Linked DNA regions of Homo sapiens: regions 2 and 3 are each linked to region 1. Evidence: fine-mapped expression QTL. A gene starts in region 1. Each other region holds a variant in brackets. All regions are shown on one strand. Distances are from middle to middle.

Region 1 (7,753 bases):
AACCTCCGCCTCCTGGGTTTAAGCAATTCTCCTTCCTCAGCCTCCCAAGTAGCTGGGATTACAGGCATGCGCCATCATGCCAGGCTAATTTTTTTGTATTTTTAGTAGAGACGAGGTTTCACCATGTTGGTTTCACCAGGCTGGTTTCGAATTCCTGACCTCAGGTGATCTGCCCACCTCGGCCTCCCAAAGTGCTGGGATTACAGGCGTGAGTAAGCACACCTGGCCTAAAAAATTAAAAAATTAGCCAGATGTGGTGGTGCGTGGCTGTGGTCCCAACTACTCTGGAGGCTGAAATGGAAGGATTACTTGAGCCCATGAGGTTGAGGCTGCAGTGAGCTGTGACTGAGCCACTGCACTCCAGCCTGGGTGACAGAGTGAGACCCTGTTTCAAAAAAAAAAGAATGTGGCTAGTGATGAGGGGAGTGAAGGGAGGGTCCTTGTAAGCTGAAAGCTTGGAGTTCAGGGGAAGAAATGATCTCTGAGCACCAATTATGCCTCATCCTCATTTCCCCTTATCCCATTTCAATCCCCAAGATGAGAAACTACCAGGGGGTTCTGGGGAAGGTGATTCAGCCAGCTAACTGAAGCAGAGTGTGTTTCAGGGTCATTGTCTACGGGACCCTGAATGTCAGGTGGAGCACAGGTTCTATGGTAGGGGAGGACATCGAGGAATAACACACACCGGGACCTGTGGGGTCGGGGGGCAAGGGGAGGGAGAGCATCAGATCAAATAGCTAAGGCATGTGGGGTTTAATACATAAATATATGGACTGGGCATGGTGGCTTATGCCTGTAATCCCAGCATTTTGAGAGGCTGAGGCGGGCAGATCATGAGGTCAGGAGTTGGAGACCAGCATGATCAACATGGTGAAACCTCGTCTCTACTAAAAATACAAAAATTAGCCGGGCACGGTGGCACGTGGCTGTAATCCCAGCTACTCAGGAGGCTGAGGCAGGAGAATCACCTGAACCCAGGAGGCAGAGGTTGCAGTGAGCCGAGTTCGCGTCACTGCACTCCAACCTGGGCGACAGAGCCAGACTCCGTCTCAAAAAAAACGAAAAACAAAAAACATAAATACATAAGTGATGGATTGATAGGTGCAGCAAACCACTGTGGCACATGTTTACCTATGTAACAAACCTGCACATTCTGCACATACATCCCAGAACTTAAAGTAAAATTTAAAAACCAAGAAATAAAAAGTAAAGTGCCCCCGAAATCCTTGAGGAGAAGAGAATTATGGGATCAGGAGCACATTTCAGCAGGACCAGTTTGGATGGTATGTGTGGGAGAGATGGCAGAAAACAGAGGCTGCAGGTTAGCTGAGGTTTACACAGTAGTTCCCATCAGGCCCACGTCAGCCTTAGGCCATGTCATGATGTGATGTGGTCATTGAACTTCCTCTCTGGGACTTTCTGTCTGTGGACTGTGCCACTGTTTCTCGTCTCAAATTTAAAGCTGAATATGGTCCAGGCAGGCCCCTTCCTTTATCCCTTGTTCTCAAAAGGAAGTCAGCACTTGGGGCACCATGAATTTAGAGGGACGGGTTGAGTGTGAGAGACACAGCATGAAGGATCAGAAAACCAGGGTATAATGTAGATGCGGAGGAGGAAGTTCCAGTAGAGTTTGTTTATGGAAAAGCTTAAGTGATAGCCCAAGCTATTTAGCCTTTCCTCAGCCTGGAAGAAACTTCTCAGCAAACCCTTCTCACACAAAGGCCAGACAGAATCCGACAGTTTTGTACCTTGGCCCACACTCTTGGTCTGAGTGCTGAACATGTGCTTCAGATTTCTGCCCTGGGTACTAAGGCAGAGGGCATCCCAATGGCAGGAAGGCAGAGTTCAAGCGTCTCAGTCTGCAAAGAGACCGGTTAGACCCTCAGTGCTGATGGCCATACAACTGGGGATCATGCTAGAGGGAGGGGGAAACAGGGAAGTGTAATCCTGGGGTGGTGGGTGGAACTGGACTGTGCAATCGGGCTTAGAATCTAGAAAGTAACAGCTGGGCAGGTGGGAGCGGCAGGCAGGGAGAATCTGAGGCAGTGGTAGCAGCGTGGGAAGCGGGGGCTGGAAATTGAGGAGGGTTGAGGAGGGAGTGGTGGATGTTAGAAGCTGGCAAAGTGTTGGGCTTTTTCTGAACGATAACCTACAAAGGAGTAGCACAGCCTTTTTTTTTTTTTTTTTTTTTTTTTTTTTTTTTTCTTTGAGACAGGGTCTCACTCTGGTTGTTCCAGGCTGGAGTGCAGTGGTGTGATCTTGGCTCATCCCTTCCACCTTAGCCTCCTAGGTAGCTGGGACTAAAGGCATGCACCACCACATCTGGCTGATATTTTGTATTTTTAGTAGAGATGGGGCTTGGTCATGTTGCCCAGGCTGGTCTGGAACTCCTGGGCTCAATTGATCCTCCCACCTTGGCCTCCCAGAGTGCTGGGATTACAGGCATGAATCACTATGACAAACATCTTTAAAGAGCCACATCAATCTGGGTGCAGTGGCTCACACCTATAATTCCAGAACTCTGGGAGGCCAAGGCGGAAGGATCACTTGAGCCCAGGAGTTCCAGACCAGCCTGGGCAACATGTCGAAACCCCCTCTCTGCTAAAAATACAATTAGCCAGGCGTGGTGGTGTGTGCCTGTAGTCCCAGCTACCTGGGAGGCTAAGGTGGGAGGATCTTCTGAGCCCAGGAGGTCAAGGTTACAGTGAGCCGTGATGGAGTCACTGCACTCCAGCCTGGGAAATAAAATGAGAACCTGCCTCAAAAAAAAAAAAAATCTAGAACCAGACCAGAAATACCATTTGACCCAACGATCCCATTACTGGGTATATACCCAAAGGAATATAAATCATTCTATTATAAAAATACATGCACATGTATGTTTATTGCAGCACTATTCACAATAGCAAAGACATAGAACCAACCCAAATGCATGGAATACTATGCAGCCATAAAAAGGAATGTGATAATGTCCTCTGCAGGGACATGGATGAAGCTGGAAGCCATCATTCTCAGCAAACTAACACAGGAACAGAAAACCAAACACTACATGTTCTCACTTATAAGTGGGGGCTGAAAACAATGAGAAAACATGGACACAGGGAGGGGAACAACACACACTGGGGCCTGTGGCGGGGTAGGGGCTAGGGGAGGGAGAGCATCAGGTCAAATAGCTAATGTATGCGGGACTTAATACCTAGGTGTTGGGTTGACGGGCAGCAAACCACATGGCACATGTTTACCTATGTAACAAACCTGCACATTCTGCACATGTATCCCAGAACTTAAAATAAAATAAAATAAAATTTAAATTTAAAAAAGAGCCACACTGGGATCCTGCAAGAGCACAGCCATCTCTTTCCCCTTCCCAACTTCCCACAGGCTTTCCATCTTATTCAGGAGCACCAACCCGAAGTCCAGGAGAAAGACCCTAAGACCCTAGCCAGAACCATGTGTAGGACAAAATAAATAGTGATAAAGGGTGTGCAGCAGGACCCCAGTACTCTGGAACCCATCTCTGACAGCCTTGGTTCCAGGGAGCTTGGTCAGAGCTTGTGGCAGGGGGTTGAAGAGCCTTGGTGGAAGGGGTGCTTTCTCTCACCCCTTTCCCAATTTTGCCCTTCCTCTCCTCTGCCCTGGTCTACTTCTCCCATCAGCAGTAGCTTCTCCCATCAGCTGCCCCACAACCCTCTCCTCCCTGCCTCTCCAGTCTGCATCAGTATCTCAGGGAAACAGGAAAACACCATTCTCCAAACACATGTCCTAGGGTCCCAGGGTTGCATGGCGAAGCGGGCTGTGCTGACAATGAGGTTCGTATTATTTCTATTTACCTAAAAGTTCAAGAAGGCCTTGCTGACATTGTTGCTTGGGGCCCAGCATTTAAACTTAGTCACTGCCCAGAGCCCTTGTTTTAGGAAAGAATGAGATGGTCCCTGTTGCATAACCCAGAGTTGGGTGGGTGTGGGTTGCCGAAGGAAACAATCCCTCTTCCTCTCTCTTGTGAGGCCTGGCTAGGAGTGCCTGGGATGGGCGGGACACTGCCTGGGGAAGGCGGGTGGGGAGCGGTGGAACCCGACCCTTGGAGCGAAGGCGGACAAGTAGGTAGGCAAAGATGCTGAGTAGTCCCTCCCCAAAGTCCCCTGGGCACAAGACAGTCTGATGAATCTAGAAAACCCCATGGATGACTGGGAGGGAAGGAAACGGATTCTGGGAGAGGAGAGGAATGGAGGAGCGAGCTTACCTGAAGGACGGGGATGGGGAGGGGGGTGGGGTCTGCTCTCTGGCCACTGTCCCCAAGAGCATCCCGAATACGAGTTCCTTTAATTCTCTCCCTCTCTAGTTTCAACCTGCCAATTTCCCCCTTTCCCTGCCTCCCAGCCAGTTCTCACCCTGCACACAGCCCTCTCCAATCCTTCCAGACTCCGCATGCGCCCACCACAATGCTAGGGTCTCCTACGGTTCATTCAAGTTGTATCCCTCCCTGCCTCCCGGCCCTTCCCCCATTGGCTTACCCCAGTCTGGTTCCCCTCGGGCCCCTTTTCTCCATAGTCTTACCTCAAGGGTGCTTTCTCTTACTCCTTTCCCAATTTTGCCCTTCCTCTCCTCTGCCCTGTTCTACTTCTCCCATCAGCAGTAGAATTTCCCAAGACCCCGTTATCCACCCTCTCCATCTTTTCTCTGTCCCTCCACATTTGCCCACTCCTCTTGTGATCCACACACACCATCTCTTCTCAGTTCCCTTTCAGCCCCCGTCTTCTCACTCCCCACCGGGTCCCTGCATGCCCCTCGTCGTCCTACACATACACACTAAGTGGATTGCACTCCCGTCCTCCCCTTCTTCCGCTCCTCCCCACCCTCCAGTCCCTCCAGCCAGCTGTACAGCTCCCAAATTCCGGGCCGAGATTCCCGGGAACAAAGCAAGAAAAATCAGAGCAATTTGGGAAGTAAACAGAAACTGGAAAGGGAGAGGGAAAGAAGAGTGGGGAGGACCCAGGTTGGGGGGGCCCTCTCCAGTCCCACCCAGTTTAGGGAATGCCCCTGCCCTCTCCCCCACCCCCCTTCACCTGGCTCTTAAAGGGCCCGGCCCCTGGCCGGCGGCTACTTAAGACAGAGGGGCGGCGGCGGGCAGCAGCTGCGCTGCGACTGCTCTGGAAGGAGAGGACGGGGCACAAACCCTGACCATGACCCCCCACAGGCTGCTGCCACCGCTGCTGCTGCTGCTAGCTCTGCTGCTCGCTGCCAGCCCAGGAGGCGCCTTGGCGCGGTGCCCAGGCTGCGGGCAAGGGGTGCAGGCGGGTTGTCCAGGGGGCTGCGTGGAGGAGGAGGATGGGGGGTCGCCAGCCGAGGGCTGCGCGGAAGCTGAGGGCTGTCTCAGGAGGGAGGGGCAGGAGTGCGGGGTCTACACCCCTAACTGCGCCCCAGGACTGCAGTGCCATCCGCCCAAGGACGACGAGGCGCCTTTGCGGGCGCTGCTGCTCGGCCGAGGCCGCTGCCTTCCGGCCCGCGCGCCTGCTGGTGAGTCCGCGCCCCGCCCCTGCCCCGCCCACGTGAGACCCGCGTCCTCCAGGCAGGGTCCTGGGGAGACGGGAGTGGGTGGCCCGGCAAGCCTTTCCGCCCTGGCCCTTGACGCTTCCGACTTTGGGGGGCACATTTGTGTGGGGGAGAAGGGGCAAGTGCAGGAAGCTGAGGTGCAGCCAGGGGACCTGGTGATACAGCAGAAGGTGTCTGCGCTCTCGGCCTTCTTTTTTGCTCCATTTATTTTCCCTTGATGGAGTGTGCGTGCAGGTGGGAACTTGGGGGAGGCAGGGGGAGAAATGGGAGGGTTTTAGGGCCATCCCATGGGCTCCAGCAGGCCCAGCTCCTACAACCCTAGACGGCCAAGCTGGGGAAAGGACCCAAATGTTGTTCTCAGCTTCCACTTGGAGAAAAGGGGAGGGGAACCCCAGACTCTGAAATTCTGCACACACTGAGAAATGACTCCTTTCCTCCTAATACCGGTGTTCGAAGCACCTAAACAGGAGGCGTCTAGAACCGAAGAGGCCCCAAATCCAGGGTTGTATTAGACTTGAGTAGGGACTGAGGGCAGGCTAGGGCGTAGGTTAGGGGAGAGGGGAGAAAGAGTAGGGGAAAGAGGGAATCTGCCAAATCAGGGTTATGATTTAAACCTGCTCAGAATCGTTCACCCATCCTACCCCACCCTGCTCCAGGGAGGAGAGCAGAAGCTGAGTCACTGGGTGGGTGGGACAGAAGTGAATCAGCCGTGAAAACATGGGGGGCAGCGGGGAGATGGGGAGGGCAGGAAATGCAAACTGCGCATCCCAGAGGCTCTGGGTTCCTTCCACGGGAGGGGATGGAGAATTCACTTGGAGTTTCTTTCAGTTCCAAATGCCCGAGTGCAGGCTTCTGGGCGTCCTCCTAAAAGGTGGTCTGGGTGGATGAGAGGAGGCAGTTTGGAACTAAATGGTTGGGTGCTAAATGTAGGGAATGAAGGAGAAGGTCTGGGGAGGGGTGGGCATCCTGAGGAAGAAGGATCAGACTCAGGATTGCAGGGGAAATGTCTCCTGGGTTGTGAGTGGTAGTTAGCTGGGAGCTTGTCTTTAGGCACAGAGGAAGAGGATCCCTTCAGGGGTTCTGATATCTGATTAGATGTTAGGCAAATTCCAAGCAGTCAGTACATGCTCCCCTTTCTGCCTTTTCCTGTCCCTGACTTATTTCCTCACCCCTTCCCAGTCCTGAGCTCTCCCCGGACCCTCCGGAAACTTTCTCCAGAGCCAGGAGCAACCTGCAGGTTGGAAGCCCCTCATTCCTTGCACCTTCTTAATCTGCCCTCAGCCTATCTTGGTTAAGGGTTGAATCCATGTGCTCCTGGGACCACTGGGGTTGAGCTGGCCTGGGTCACAGGGTACCAGAAGGGAGAGGTTCCCACTGCAGTGCCCCAGAAGTAACCACATCTCAGGCCTGGGAGGGGTGGGTTGAGTCATAGCAAGGTCACAGCAGGGACACACATTCCTTTTGGGTCCCTGTTGGCCCCCCTCCTACATCCGTTGCTCTTCTGCCCCAGCTCTCCGGCTTCGTGCGCCCCCTTCTGGCCTCTGGTGGAACAGCCAGGTCTTTTCACCCAAAGCCCAAAGCCCCAAATAGTCCTTTGAATTTGTTCTCCATTTTTTCATTTATTTTATTATTTATTGTAATTAATTGATTGATTTTTAAATTAGTTAATTTTTTAAAATTAAGTAATTAGTTAATTTTTTAAAATTAAGTAATTAATTAATTTTTTAAAATTAAGTAGTTAATTTTTTTTAATTAAGTAATTAATTAATTTTAAAAAGTATTTATTTATTTTGAGACAAAGTCTCACTCTGTTGCCCAGGCTGGAGTACAGTGGTCCAGCGTCTCACTGCAACCTCCGCCCCCCCGAGTTCAAGCGATTCTCCTGTCTCAGCCTCCGGAGTAGCTGGGACTACAGGAGCCTGATACCATGCCAGGCTAATTTTTGTATTTTTAGTGGAGACGGGGTTTCACCATGTTGGCCAGGCTGGTCTCGAACGCCTGACCTCAAGTGATCTGCCCACCTTGGCCTCCCAAAGTGCTGGGATGACAGGCATGAGCCACTGCGCCCAGCCAATAATTTATTTATTTTTGAGACAGGGTCTCACTCGGTTGTCCAGGCTGAAGTGCAGTAGCACAATCATGGCTCACTGCAGTCTTGACTTCTGGGGCTCAAGCAGTCCTCCTGCCTCAGCCTCTCAAGTAG
Region 2 (7,218 bases), 26 kb before region 1:
TCCTCTTCCTCTTCCTCCTCTTCCTCTTCCCCTTCCTGGTGCAGGTACATGACATTCCGCACGTTCCGGACGGCCCGGGCAGTCGGAGACAGGATCACTGTGTCACAACTGTCATCACTGTCCCCTAGGAGACCAGGAAACCTGAGCTCCTGTGGTGCCTTTCCACCCTCGGCCCCAAGCAGCCTGGCTGGCCACCCCTACCCCACTCACCCTCACTGTCCAAAATGTAGTCCCGGGGGAACATGATTCCACAGCCCATGATGTCCCCTTTGTAACAGCGTGGCCCAAAGGGGTCCCCCACACCACTGCCATGGAAGATCTTCCCATCGTCTGTTGGAGGGAGGGGAAAGGACAAACACTTGAGGAAGGAGGGCTGACACCACACCCCCAGAGTGGCTCATGAAGCTGAACACTTCCCACCCCTCAGAGGAAGGGAAGGGTCAGGGCGGAAACAAAGATGGAGAGAGAGGCCGGGCGCGGTGGCTCACGCCTGGAATCCCAGGACTTTGGGAGGCCAAGGAGGGTGGATCACCTGAAGTCAGGAGTTTGAGACCAGCATGGCCAGCATGGCGAAACATCTCTACTAAAAATACAAAAATTAGCTGGGCGTGGTGGCGCCCGTCTGTAGTCCCAGCTACTCAGGAGGCTGAGGTGGGAGGATCACTTGAGCCTGGGAGGCAGAGGTTGCAGTGAGCCAAGATCATGCCACTGCACTCCAGTCTAGGTGACAGAGTGAGACTCCATCTCAAAAAAAAAAAAAAAAAAAAATTGGAGCGAGATATATGGGAAGGGGGCACCAAATAAAATAAAGAGACGTAGTATCCATCTGCTCAAGGTAAGGGTAAGGGAGAACCCTTAGGAAATGAGTCAGAGGAGGGGGCCCTAGGGAAGGAATGAACACCCAGGGAGGGCAGGCAGGGGGAGGTGGGTCGAGGAACTCTAGGCTCAGTTTTCTTCTAAAGAAAGCCAAGGAAACCAAGCAGCAAAAGAAAAAAGAAAATGAGGAAATGAGGGTCTGCAGGAAGGGCACGGGGGGACCAGCTCAGAGGCCTGGAATGTCCCATCTGGGCCCAGATCTCCCTCTCCTGTCCTGCTCCCCTGGTTTCCAGAGCTGGGAGGAAAACACAGATGAGGAGGAAGCACTAGCGATTTGGGAAGGGGAGGTCAGCCAGCAGCAGGGCAAACAGCAAGGCCATTTGTGAGGGGCCAGGAGAGGGGAAAGTGGATGTCCCTATGCCTCCACATCTCCCACCATCCCACCTTTCCCAGGCAGCCCGCTATTCACCTGCATGATAAGCCACAGACCCTCTGCTCCAGCCAGGGTGCCTGTTCTTGGGATAGTCCTGCACCAAGAAGAGAAAAGAAAATCTATGGTCCCATGCATAAACAAGACAGGAGAGAGTGGCGAGTAGCATCTGAACCTCTGGGACAGACCACAGCCCAGAGAGTGCCAACCCTGCACACTCATACCCTGCAGGCACTGGGGCTTCAGGGGAACCAGGGAGGGTGAGGAAAGTGTTAGTTAAGCTTTTAAGGCCAGAGCCATGGCATGTCCCACCCCCTCCCCCCAGGCCTTAGTGTGTGGTGCAGTCATGACCTGTCTCAGGTCCTTGGTCACATGGGGTGTGTACTCTTACACAGCAGACACATACAACTGTGTTCCATCTCAGCTTAGCACCCTCCCTCCAAAGCCTGGGCTCCCCTGGTTTCTCCTAAGAGCTTCCTGGTGCTGCCCCAACAGCCCCAGACCTGAGCAGCTCCATGAGCAAAAAAGCTCAGCCTTTGTGCCCACCTTCCGTGCCAGCCCCAGGGCGATGTAGCATTTCTCTCCAGGGTCCACGATCTCCACCTCGAAGTAGTGGCTGCGGGTGCTGAGTGGGTGCCGGGCCTGGGCCAGCCCCACATCCACGATGCTTTTGCCCTTCCCTAAGTACTCCAGCAGCTGTGGGGGAAGAGCCAGATGGGGGTCAGGGGACAGGCTGACACCCACCCTGGAAACCTGGGCCCAAGGCAGTCTGGGTCCCACTTTCCCAGGTCTGACAAAAACTCCTGGCTGAAAGGGAAAGAATCCTAGAGATACAATGTGGCCCCAAAGTTCTAGGCCAGCATGGAAGAGCAGGATGGGGTGGGAGGCAAAGGGGAGAGCACCCCTTGCTGAATGCCCACGCTGTCTTCCCCCACACACTTTCTGGGAGGCCGGGGAAAGCAGCACAGCTAGGGGAGCGGCACACCAGGGGGCTCTAGATGCATCCTCGCCCGCTGAAAAACCCTGCAGCCTTTCCTGCTGGGAAAGGTCCGCCCAGGGTCCCAAACACAGGGGAAAGGAGAAGCAAGACTAGCTGAGAGGAAACTTGATGACTTTCTCAGGGGGCCTAATGGGGACAGGGAGGATGCAGAAGTTAGGTGCCAACCCCAGATATTCAGGGGAAGCGGGTGAGTTCAGAAGCCA[A/G]TTCTGCCTGGGATGGGCCTGACATAATTTCTCAAGGTCCTTGTTTTACTTGGCTGTGAACACAGCTGTTCTTAGCTGGGTCAGGGAGGTGCTGAGGGGAGCCCAGGGACCCAGAACGCCCAGCTCTACTCCCTCATTTCATGTGAGGGAGAGGAGAGGTCAAAATGAAGACAGAGGCAGGCTTAGCTGTTCCCAGCCCCTCATTGCTCATTCAAGTTGGAGTAGGGGCGTGGAGGTAGGATAGGGGAGATGACTGATGGGTTCTTGGGGCTCTTCAGTCCCACAATGGTCCTGCCTGGGCACGACGGGGCGGCAACCCCCAATCTGGGAGGATTTATTTGTCAGTTGTCATGGTAATAGTGGGGTGATGACTCAACCCCATCCCCTCTTTCCCCCACCTTCGGCCTCACCTGGGATTCCTTAATCTCCTTTTAATTAGCCCAACTGCCCCTCACGACTTTCTTCTACCCTCCCACCCCTGCAGCCCTGAAGGAAACATGTTGCCTAGGGACCTCCTCCACGTCTCCCTGGCAAGCTTTGGGACGCCGGCCTCTCACCTCTCACAGATTCCTGCCTGAACAGGAAAGGAATTATGCCCACCTGCACCAGCACAGAAGCCTGTGCGTGTCTCCAGCAGAGGCTGCTCCCGCATCCCCACTCCCAGCCTCAGACGGCCGCTGCTTAGCTCAGGTGCTTAGAGCGGGGTGCTACTAACCCCTTCTGAGAGTAGGACTAGAGGGGCTTGGTGCCTTTCTCAGCCCTGGATCTCAGCCCCGCCACCTCAAGTCCATCCTTCCCTCCTCTCCAAAGATAACTGGGGATGGATGAGGGGGAAAGCAGCATGCACGGGAGACCACCTAAGCCCATCCCCAAGGCCACACTGTTTGACTTCTGTTCATGGTGTATTCTCTGCTCAGCCTGGGTTCCTCCTCTGCCTCTCTCCCCGGGAAGCCAGGAGGGGTGTGGCTTGATCCACATTAACTAGTTTAGACTCCACCCAGGCAGAGCAGCCCCCAGCCCACCCTCTCCACCCAGCATTGCAGAACTGGGTGGGGGACCCCACAGCTGCCTTTGACCCATTCTATCCAACTGGCCTCGGTGTAGGAAACACAGTGTTCTCCATTTCCAGAGCCAAAAGACAGCCGATCCAGACCCTGATCCTTGGGAAATACCCGGCCAGCCCCTCCCTTTGCCTCAGCTCAGAAGAGGGTAGCTGCTGCATTTCTGTCTCTGGATAGGGTGGAGGTGCTTTCTCACGCTAAAAGCCAGGACGGACTACCCCAACATGGGTCTTTAAAACCCACTCTCTACCTGCCAACCACAGAGCACTTCGGACAGAATGCTGATGTCCTGGACGACTAGGTACTTGTACAGTGTATAGGTGAGGCTTGTACAGCGTGCCCTCTTCAGAGGGGACCGCCCAGCCCTCACAGTGAAAGCCATCATAAACCTCCTGATCCACTCTCCTGCTCCTGGACAAAGCTCCCCCGACCCCTCCTGAGCCTTCCCAGAGAACTCAGAGGGGTGGAAGTGGGGGGAATATTTGGCCTCCCTGACAGATTCTTTCTTGAGTACATTCCTCTGCCTCCTTGGTCTATAGCTGTTAGGAACCTAGAGGAGGAGTGAAGGTTAACCCTTAGAGTCTGAACTGTTAGGATCTTGATGCTGGTCCCTCAACCTGTACCTCAGAATCCAACAGACCTGGGTTCAAATCCTAACTCCTATTACTTAACAGCCGCTAACCTCAGGCAAATGACATTCACCTCCTTAAGCCTTGGTTTCTTCAACAGTAAACTGGGATAAGATTACCTGAATTTCCAAAAACAAGTGGGAAGACTTAATGAAGTGACCAATACACATTGCTGCCTCTCCCTAAATCAGTGTAAATGGGGTTACGTTGGAATTGCCGATCACAAAGAAGGAAATGATCTTTCATCTTAGCCCTTACTTCCAACTACAATGGTCCCTTAGGCCAACCAGGACGATGGCCACTCCCCAGACAACTCTACCCTATGTGTCTCCTCTCAAACAATGTCCAATCAACAGAAATGTTTCTCTGCATTTTTGGTGGGGGAAGATGGAGCCCTTTCTTTGGGTCTCCCCCTAATACACACATACCACCAAAGCCCCAAGAAGCCAAAGACATGACTCAGTGCCACAGAGTGGCGGCTGCAGACCAGAGTGTGGACAGTCTCGTGCACTCCACACCCTCCCTCTACCAGTAGCACCTTCCCAGCCTCTTCTCCCCTGCCGGTATCCGCCCTCCTCCCCTTGCCAGCAGAGACCCTAATCCCTCTTGACAGGAGCAAGGAAGGGCTCAGTGCCCTGAGGGCCCAGAAGCAACTGAAACAGGAACCAAGTACACACTCTCCTGGCCAGCTCAGGCTCCAGCACAGCCTCCCTCTGGGCTGGGTCTGGGGAGGACCCCTGGGAGGGCGGGGCCTCATTCACCACCCTGTGTGTACCAAAGCTGTTGCCCCTGTCACTAAGGAGTTGTCAGAGGAGCTGTGAACAGGGCACAAACACAGAATGAGTCTAATCCCCCAGCTGTTACCTACCGCCCCCAGCTCCCCTCCACCACATTACCTCACTTTGCGAGGCCTGGAGGCAGGGATGAGGTGAGAGGCAAGTGCCCCAGCAATTCCTCAACCCCTCAGAGCTCTGAGGAGGTAGACTCTTTAGGAGGGGGAAACAGGCCACAGGAGGCAGGGGAAGAATTCCACTCAAGAAAGAGCCAGGTCTGTCTATATCCAAAGACTCAAATCTAACAACTGTTGAGGCCCAGGGCAGTGGCTCATGCCTCTAATCCCAGCAATTTGGGAGGCCAAGGTGGGAGGATCCCTTGAGCCTGGGAGTTGGAGGCTGAAGTGAACCAGCACTCCAGTCTGGGTGACAGAGTGATAGCCTGTCTTAAAAAAAAAAAAAAAAAAAAAAGGAAAGTTGGCATGACTGGAAAAAGGCACATGTCCCTCAGGAAGCTCACATCCAAGTTGGCCCCAGAGGAACGGGTGCCCCAGGAGTAGTGCTCCCACCCTGCCACCTGGCCCAAGCTGGGGTGAGGGTCTGAGAGAAGGGCCCAATTCAACAGCTTATGTCTAAAAAAGAAAAACACTCTTAAATAAGTGGCTGAAGGTGTTGGGGGGAGGGTGGGGAGGAAGGAAGGCTATTTATAAATGTCTACAGGATTCTGCATCAATTAGAAAAGATTGCCTGGGAGGAGCTGAGAGCAGAGTGGGGACAGGTCCAGGCAGAGAAAGGATGCCAGGAAAAAACTCTTGAGGAGAGGTCAGAGATGAGAGCTGGAACATCGCCCTGGCGCAGCCCCAAGTTTAACTCTGTAGATGTTGTCAGAATGATGGTAGATTGAGGGGAAAAAGGAAAGACATGAGAGTCACGGAGTGGGCATCTGAGGCCTCTTAGCTCTCGGTCGCTGCAGCCTGGGACCCTGATGCCAGACGGGGGTGCAGAGTGTCAGAAGCAGCAGGAGGGCACACTTCCTGTCATTTTCCCTGAGTTCCACTCCACCAGGGGGAGGCCTGGCTCCTAATCCGCTCCCACCCCCCACTGCTTCTGTTTTGTTATCAAAGACTGAGTTGAAAACAGCCTGGGTTGGGGTGGAAAGGCCAGAGGGTGGAGAAAAAGGCCAGGCCAGGAGCAAGGGGGTAGGAGAGGGACAATTCGAAGTGGGAGGGCTGAGCAGCCCACTAGAGGTCAGGGCCAGATCCCGGACTTGGCGTCCATTCACTCCCAATGCAGCACAGTGTATTGAGGCAGACAGGAAGAATTTTCCTTTCTCAAGGTTCATGAATTTTCCAACAAAACTTAAAATCCGGGGAGGAAGAATTCCCCTTTCTCAAGCTCCACACGCTTCCCAACGAAGCTTAAAATCCATACTAAAGCAGGTATGAGGAAAAGATAAATGAAGCAAGTTTGGAGGTGTAAGGATGCTCACTGAATCTTTATCTGCCTCCATTCTAATCCTCTATCAAATGCAGGGATAAGACAATAGAAACTGACATTGACACTTCCTCAAAAAAGATGGCTAAGAACCTTCCACCACATGTGTGGACTTCTGACCACACCTGCCCCACAACACTTTGAATGAAAAGCCTGGGCCAGGCATTTTGCCTCCAGATCAACCCCCAGCCCCTCAAAGGCAGTTGTGCAGGGCTGTAGAAGACACCAGAAGCTGAAGGAACCAAAAAAGGCAAAGCAGAACTACTTGTTCCCAGGGTCAAACTGCGAACCTGAGTTCCCTGAAGAGGAGGAAGTGAAGAAAAGAGAACATGTGCTAAAGAAAACACAGATCTGGACTCAAGGACTCATGTCAAGAGCCTAGGCTATCTTGCCAAACCCCACACGGACACTGTCCCGACTCCCCATTCCCAGCAATTCAGACATGACCATGTGCCCACAGGTGTTCTGCCCAGCCTCCTCCGACCCAGCCCCTCCCACCCTCCCACCCGCTACTTACAGTCCCACAGACTCTGACATCATGTAGCCGGCCCCATTCATCCTCGTAACTGTCCACCATCATGACGCTGTCGTCCTCACGGCCCAGCTCAGCGTTGAGGTGCAGCCGCACCTCCTCACCCAGGGAGTGCATGCCCACTGCTGGGAACAGTCCATCTGGGGACATGGGCATGATGGTAGAGCCCACCTGCAGTGGGGGGAAAGACGGAGCTGCCACCCGGCCTGCTTTTCCATAGCTCACCTAATTCTCACAAGGGTACTTTTAAGATGATGCAACCAGCCGGGCGTGGTGGCTC
Region 3 (7,753 bases), 88 kb before region 1:
ATTACTCACAGAATACTTGTTGTAATATTTTATTAGTTGCTTATTATCTGTCCTTCCCCCACTAGAATATAACCTCTTTTGGGACAGTTCTATTCCATGTTGTACCCGCAAGTGTCTGTGCCTGGCACACGGTGGGAAACAAAAATTTTCATTTAATGAATGAAATGGAACATCAGCTAGGGGAAGCATGAATAGCCCTAGTCTCAGAAATCCTAAAGGCCTAAGTTGGACTAAACCTAGTCAGCAAATTGGACCATTAAATGAGGTAAAAGCCCATGACAATTAAGTGTTCAGCATTTGTTACCTTCTTATTCCGTCTAAATATGCCTCATTAAAACCATTCTTACACAAGACGTTCGATTTGTTTTGCCTTTACAAAAAGTAATTTGAAAACAAACAGTGGTTGATGCCTGTAATCCCGGCACTGTGGGAGGCCTCGGAGGGAGGAATGCTTGAGTCCAGGAGTTCGAGACCAGCCCAGGCGACACAGGGAGACACACCGCCCCCCCCAAGCCCGCCACTCTGTCTCCACACAAAGACTTTTTTTTAATTAGCTGGTCCTGGAGGCACTCGCCTGTGGTCCCAGCTACTCAGGAGGCTGAGGTGGAAGAACTGCTTGAGCCCCGGAGGTTGAGGCTGCAGTGAGCCGAGATCGCGCCACTGCACTCCAGCTTGGGAGACAGGGCGAGACCCCGTCTCAAAAAATAAAAATAAATAAAAATAAAATCAGTGATTTCTGATGTGGCTTTTAAAAACTAGGCCGGGCGCGGTGGCTCACGCCTATAATCCAGCACTTTGGGAGGCCGAGGCGGGTGGATAGCCTGAGACCAGGAGTTCAAGACCAGCATGGCCAATATGGTGAAATATCCCGTTTCTACTAAAAATACAAAAAACTAGCAGCGAATGGTGGTGGGCGCCTGTAATCCCAGCTACTCCAGAGGCTGAGGCAGGTGAATCGCCTGAACCCGAGAGGCGGGGGTTGCAATGAGCCGAGGTCGCGCACGCCATTGCACTCCAGCCCGGACAACAGGAGCGAAACTCCGTCTCAAAAAAGTACATTAAACTCAGAATCTTCCCTTTCAGCACATCCATTTCGCCACACCCATCACCGGCTCCGTGCAGAGTAAGCAGAAGCAGCAGCGAAGCCCCGCCCTTCCCGCCACTCTTCCGGCAGGAAGTCTGTGCGTCAGGAGGCCGGCCAGGACTCAGCTCCAGCCCCGCGCTCGCGTGTAGCCCTACGTAAAGCGTGAGGGGTTTCGCGACAACCCAGGCCCCGCCCCTTTGGCCACATGTCGCGCATGTCTTCCCGTCGGACGGCGTGCCACCTCGCCGCGCAGCTTTACGAACCTAGAGCAGCGCCGCCCCGCCTCCTGTCTCCGTCCTCACCTCCCCGCCCCCTCCCAGCTTCGCGTCTCCTAGCTCGACGCGCCCGCTATAATCACGTGATTGCCTCATCCGGGTCTTTTGCGTTCTCTTTCCCTCTCCCAACATGGCGGCCTCAGGTGAGCGAGCAGCCGAGCGCGGCCAAGGACTGGGCTCTGAAACCCCCCTCCGAGCGTGATCCACTGATTTCCTGAAGTCGGGGAATTGCTGGCACTGGTTCCTTTCTGAATTGAGGGCTGCGGCAGGCTGGCGGCGTGGCCCTGTTAGGTTACTGCCTCTGGATGTTTGGGGGGGAGGGGAAGGACACCTTCCCCTCCCCCTCACACTCTTTTCACCCTTTCTGCGCGAGATTGGAATAGGCAGTAATGGTAGACTCTGGCTTGAATTGGGGAAGGAGGCGCAGAAAGGTGTGCGGGTGGTGCGAGGCCTTTTCGTAGACGTGAATCACCGTGCCCGCGTGAAGGCGTGGAGGAAGGAAGGAGGCGGTTGCTGCGCGGACGAGTGCACATTAGACTACGTCTCCAAGGCGCGAGGCTGTAGCGGACCGGAGTGGGGGGTAGGGGAGTAAGTGTGGTGGGGGGGAGCAGTTGGAACGCGAGCGCGAGTTGGTGGAGGGGCGGGGGAAGGCAGCGGTGCGCGTGCGCGGTAGGAGACACGAGGGTAGTAGAGACGGGCGCGCCTTCAATGCGTGCGCTAGAACCCAGATGGGAAGCTTTTTAACGCGCCTGTGTTGCGCACTTATGTCCTTTTAGGTTGTCTCTTCCCTTTCTAGAGTGTGGGCCCTGTGCCTGTATTCTTCTAAGGGTGTGTGTGTTAGCCTTGGAGGTTGGTGCTATTGGCGTTAGATGGGGGTGGGGAATCCAGTTAGGTGCGCCCACGTGTTGGAGAAGCACCGGTGTGCACCTAGATTTCCTTCTAGGCTTTTTTCTCATACTCAATTGGAGGCATTTTTTACTCAGCGCAGCTATATGCCAGGATCAGGTTTCGCTTCCGGCGCTTCCATGTTGGTTGAATTTGGATAGCTCCAATGGTAGATTTCAGCCTTTTTTTTTTTTTTTTTTTTTTTTTTTTAAGGTAACTGTGCAACTACCAGCAGGTACTTTTAAAATAGTGCTTACTAATGGCTGGAGTTGCTTACTTCTTTAGACAACCTTGGAGGGGAGTATCAGTGCCTTGCAAGTCTAATTACATTTCTAATGGGCTTATAAAAGCAGTGATGACCCAACATCTTGTAGCATTGATTTTAGTTTGAGGAATATAGTTTGTTTTCTCTGGCATGACCTTGCATTCTTCAAAACATTATTTGAACTTCTATCTCTGGGTGCTCATTTCTTACCTAGTAATTCATCGTCTCTATTACAAAGAAGCTAAGGGTTTTGGTTGGCTTTGGAAAATGTTGAGAAATTTGAGGTGCATTTGAACATCTTTCATTGGTGTAACGCTTGACAGTTGACCAAGCACTTTTGTGCATGTTGTCTCCTTCCATCCTGAGGTACTGCAGAGAGCTAGTGGTATTTCTCAGCTAAGGAATATTATTTAAGGCCACACTGCTCTCAGCTGGCAGAGCAAGGTCATAATCTTTGAGACTCCTTAGCAACTTAAAAGTATCAAGGTGTCATCATCAGTTTAGGACGCTGCCCGAAAGCATCTGAAGTTTACAAAAATGTTCATATTTTTTTCTCCAGTGGGCTAGTAAAAGTCCTAAATATATTTTAAACTAACCATTGCTTAAAGTACTTACTTGGTCTGGATTTGCCACCTTAACAGTTTAGTATCGTAATTTAGTGAAGAAAATCTGTGTTTTCTTAACTTTTGTGTAATTTTTAGAGGCGGAACATAGGACAGCAATTCATGTCCTTCGTTTTACCGAGTTGAGGGAAATCCAGACTGATAAAAGGGATTTACTCTGACGTCCCATTCTCTTGTTCTTCCATATTTACTCTACCCCCTTGAAAACCCTCATCTCCTTTAATTCACTTCAGTAAATCTTTTTAGCTGGTACTGGTATCTGAGCACAAGTCACATCTTTCAGTCTGTTCTTGAGGAATCTGGGGTTTATCGGATTGTTTCCCCGCTCCTCTTTCCAGTCACACTGGCTTTGTGAAGTAACCAGTATTCCCTGATGTGGGAAATGGATGTTATGTGTTCTGTGTGAAAATACATAAAACAACTTCATACGCCTCTTTTACTGTTAAATGAGACCAAAAAATTCTTTGCAGCAATACCAGTTTCCAGTGTGATCCATTATTGACCTTCAAGAACTAAGGTAGGTCTCAGAACTAACTATAGAATGAGGATAGTTTGAATTCCTAGAAACTTGATACATTGAGCCAGTACACTTAATTCCTTGCTTTGCTTCTTAAAAAGAATTCTTAAAGGCCGGGCGCGGTGGCTCACGCCTGTAATCCCAGCACTTCGGGAGGTCGAGGCGGGCGGATCACTAGGTCAGGAGTTGGAGACCAACCTGACCAACATGGTGAAACTCTGTCTCTACTAAAAATACAAAAATTAGCTGGGCGTGGTGTCGCGTGCTTGTAATCCCAGCTACTCCGGAGGCTGAGGCAGGAGAATCGCTTCAATCTGGGAGGGGGAGATTGCAGTGAACCGAGATTGTGCCATTGCACTCCAGCCTGGGCAAAAGAGCAAGACTCCATTTCAAAAAAAAATCTTAAAAATACGAAGTTTTTCATTTTTCTTAAATTTTCATTGTGACTACTTTAGTAGACTTGCCAGTAATAAGCCAGTTACCGCTTGAATCTCAGTTTCTTTATCTGGAAAGTGGTCATTATTTATCTGCTGTCCCCTTACCTAGAGGGAATCAAATGCGTTTGATACAGGTTAAC[A/G]TTTAAAATGCTTTCAAATTGGGCAGGGTGCAGTGGCTCATGCCTGTAATCCCAGCACTTTGGGAAGCTGAGGTGGGTGAAACACCTGAGAACAGGAGTTCGAGACCAGCCTGGCCAACATGGTGAAACCCAGTCTCCACTAAAAATACAAAAATTAGCGGGGTTTTGGGCTGGGCGTGGTGGCTCACGCCTGTAATCCAGGAGGCAGAGGTTGCAGTGAATTGAGATTGCACCACTGCCCTCCGGCCTGGGCGACAGAGCGAGACTCCGTCTCAAAAAAAAAAAACAAAAACAAACTTTAAAATTGGAAATAACATATGTAAGCTCATGCACAGGCCTTTCATTTCCATAATGCTTCAAAATGCAGTCCTGTGTGACATCTTATTTGATTATTTTTATAGGGAGAAGATGCTCTGCAGTGGTTGTTTTCATACACTGCTGACTCTCACAGTGAAATGGTTTTAAGGGGTGCCATTATATATTGCTTACAGATTCCCTAGTGTCAAGTTCCATCCTCTATCATGTATATGTTATTCTGTGAGTAAGATACCCAGAAGGCCAAAATTAAAACTCTTTATGAAAGTTTAAATACAAATACAGAATAGTGTCAATTAAGATAAAGCAGTGTTTCTAAGTAATGTCATTGAAAAAAGAGGTATATTTCATCTCAAAACATTCTGGAATTCTCTTTTCGTGATGGTAGAGGAAATAACTGAACTTGAGTACAGTATTTTAAGTAATTATTTGTAATTAGGTTTGCCTTATGTACATTTATGAGCCAGTTTCTTAAATTTGTAGTAGATACTGCTATGGTCCTGATAGTGGGAAAGTACCAAATCAAGAAGTTTAACTTGAATTTGTGTACCTCCTGTCTCCCATTTTGTGTAATGGTTAGCATGGCATGCATTGGGCACTTATTTTGTTTGATTATGTATATGATCAAATTGAGTATCCCTGGAGGGATAAGGAAAAGGTAGTATGGCATCTTCTGTCAAAATGAAGTAATTGGGCACAGAGAGGTCATGTAACTGAACCCGTACGGGGGTCAAGATGGTGGAGCTTATGAGTTTTGACTCAGTCTTTACTATGCTAAACTTACCCAATCCCCAACTAAATCAAAAGGTGGCTTGCACTGGGATCTTTTTGACTTTACAATGGGTTTATCCGGATAGTAAATGCATTTTTTTACTTGAGAAGGGTTTATCCTGACAGTCTCATCATAAGTCAGGGAGCATCTATATAGTGCAGTAAAGGTGAAGGTGAAATATTGTATTACATTGCATGAAATGTCTTTTCATGGCTGGGCTGTAAACACCAATATAATTAGTCTAATTCTAGGCACTCTGGGTGGATCGATTGTGTTTATGCAATGTTGTTGGTTTAGGGAAACATTTGTTATTCATTATTTAAAGTAGCTTTTGTTTTGTTTGTTTTTGTTTTTGTTTTGAGACAGAGTCTCACTATGGCTCAGGCTGGAGTGCAGTGGCGTGGTCTCAGCTCACTGCAATCTCCACCTCCTGGGTTCAAGCGGTTCTAGAGATGGAGTTTCACCATGTTGGCCAGGCTGGTCTCGAGCTCCCGACCTCAGGTGATCTTCCCACCTTGGCCTCCCGGAGTACTGGGATTACAGGCATGAGCCACCACACCTGGCCTAAAGTAGCTTTTAATTATGGAGAATGTGGCAGAACTCACTTTTAGTAACAGCTTTATTCAATGTAATTTGTATACCATAAAATTTACACTTTTAAAGTATACAGTTTGGACCGTGTGCAGTGGCTCACTCCTGTAATCCCAGCACTTTGGGATGCCAAGGCAAGAGGATCACTTAAGCCCAGGAATTCAAGACCAGCCTAAGTAACATAGTGAGACCACGTCTCTACAAAAAAAATTTTAAAAATTAGCCAGGGGTGGTGGCATGTACCTGTGGTCCCAGCTACTTGGGAGGCTGCAGTGGGAGGATTGCTTAAGCCCTGGAGGTCAAGGCTGCAGTGAGCCATTATCTCACTACTGTACTCCAGCCTGGGTGACAGAGCAAGACCCTGTATGATTTGGTGGGGTTTAGTATATTCAGAGATGTTCAACCATCATTATTATCTAATTTCAGAACCTTTTTATCACCCCCAAAGAAAAGTCCTTTATATAGGACTAACAATTCCTTTTCATTTATCTTTTTATTTATTGAAGTGAAACATCACTTAGAACATGGTTCTCAGCTAAGGGACAGTCTTTTCATCCCAAACCCTCATCCCACCCCAGAGCATTTGGCAGTGTCCAGAGACGCTTTTGGTTGTCAGAGTGGAATGGGGATCGGGGATTACTATTGGCATCTAATGAGCAGAATCAGAGATAACTGCTAAAATCCCCCCATGACAAATTACCTAAGCTAAAATATCAGCAGTGCTGAGATAGAGAAACTCTGAGTTAAGAAGTAGGCTGTATTTATTTTAGTATCTATTATAACAAATCCTGTTTATTAAGAAAACCATGAATGTGTTGTCTCTTGTTTAACGGCTTCTGGACTTAGCAATATTTCCGTTTTTAAGATCTTTTATTAAACCTGTATGGGTATATAAAGAGCTGGAGGTGTGTTTTCCCCACTGTAGACCATGTATAAATAATTGGGACAGGTTTTGTTTTGTGAGGTGATTGATTTGTTAACTTTTTAACCAGTTCACATAAGATTTAGAGAAAATTAAAGAATTGGACCAGTTCATTGTTGAATTGCAAAGGATTGATAAACCTGGAGCATTAAACAGTGCTTTACTTATAAAGCAGAGGGAACACTGTTGAAATCTAAACATGTAATGGGCCTAGGTATTGAGGGAGCAAAGGGCATGGAGGATTTAGATAACATCTTTTCTCAGTTAACTGGAATGAAACGGAGTGGAACAAACACGGGCACCTACTTTAGGTTTATTGATTTTGCTTTCCAAGGGCTAATTCCTTTAAACCTGCTGCTTATATTTTGACTGAGTCAGTGCTGCTGCTACAGTTAAATAAGTTGAAGATCTTGTAAGGAATTTTAGCCTGTTTTTTTAAGACTCATCTAACAGGTGGGGCGCAGTAGCTCAGGCCTGTAATCCCAGCACTTTGGGATACAGAGGCGGGCAGATCACCTGGGGTTGGGAGTTGGAGACCAGCCTGACCAACATGGAGAAACCCCATCTCTATTAAAAATACAAAATTAGCCAGGTGTGGTGGTGCATGCCGGTAATCCTCGCTACTTGGGAGGCTGAGGCAGGAGAATCGCTTGAACCCGGGAGGCGGAGGTTTCGGTGAGCCGAGATTCCACCATTGCACTCCAGCCTAGGCAACAAGAGCAAAATTTCTGTCTCAAAAAAAAAGACTTATCCAACAGTAATTTCTTTTTTTTTTCCTTTTTTTTTTTTTCTTTTTTTTGTGGGGGACGGAGTCTCGCTTTGTAGCCCAGGCTGGAGTGCAGTGGCACGATCTCAGCTCACTGCAAGCTCCGCCTCCCGGGTTCACGCCATTCTCCTGCCTCAGCCTCCCGAGTAGCTAGGACCACA

Evidence for each region.
Region 2: its variant is fine-mapped to the expression of IGFBP6 in blood mononuclear cells (TOPMed, PIP above 0.99). The same link has a PIP of 0.9 or more in whole blood.
Region 3: its variant is fine-mapped to the expression of IGFBP6 in whole blood (INTERVAL, PIP 0.95).

What each region holds. Positions count from the first base shown.
Region 1 is chr12:53,092,538-53,100,290 of GRCh38, forward strand. IGFBP6 (insulin like growth factor binding protein 6) reads left to right here and starts at 5,130. Exons shown (of 4, transcript NM_002178.3): 1 at 5,130-5,514. The coding sequence starts at 5,181. RefSeq lists silencers at 5,438-5,517, 5,528-5,647, 6,935-7,150.
Region 2 is chr12:53,066,363-53,073,580 of GRCh38, forward strand. It overlaps SPRYD3 (SPRY domain containing 3), which reads right to left. Exons shown (of 11, transcript NM_032840.3): 6 at 6,924-7,109; 7 at 1,793-1,942; 8 at 1,286-1,343; 9 at 211-330; 10 at 1-124. Among named protein-coding and RNA genes, the nearest start is that of SPRYD3, 9.4 kb to the right of the region's middle. RefSeq lists enhancers at 1-78, 5,520-6,020, 5,903-6,197, 6,021-6,521. The variant A/G (reference allele first, on the strand shown) is at 2,450.
Region 3 is chr12:53,004,995-53,012,747 of GRCh38, forward strand. EIF4B (eukaryotic translation initiation factor 4B) reads left to right here and starts at 1,462. Exons shown (of 15, transcript NM_001417.7): 1 at 1,462-1,502. The coding sequence starts at 1,490. RefSeq lists enhancers at 833-1,576, 1,577-2,320. The variant A/G (reference allele first, on the strand shown) is at 4,227.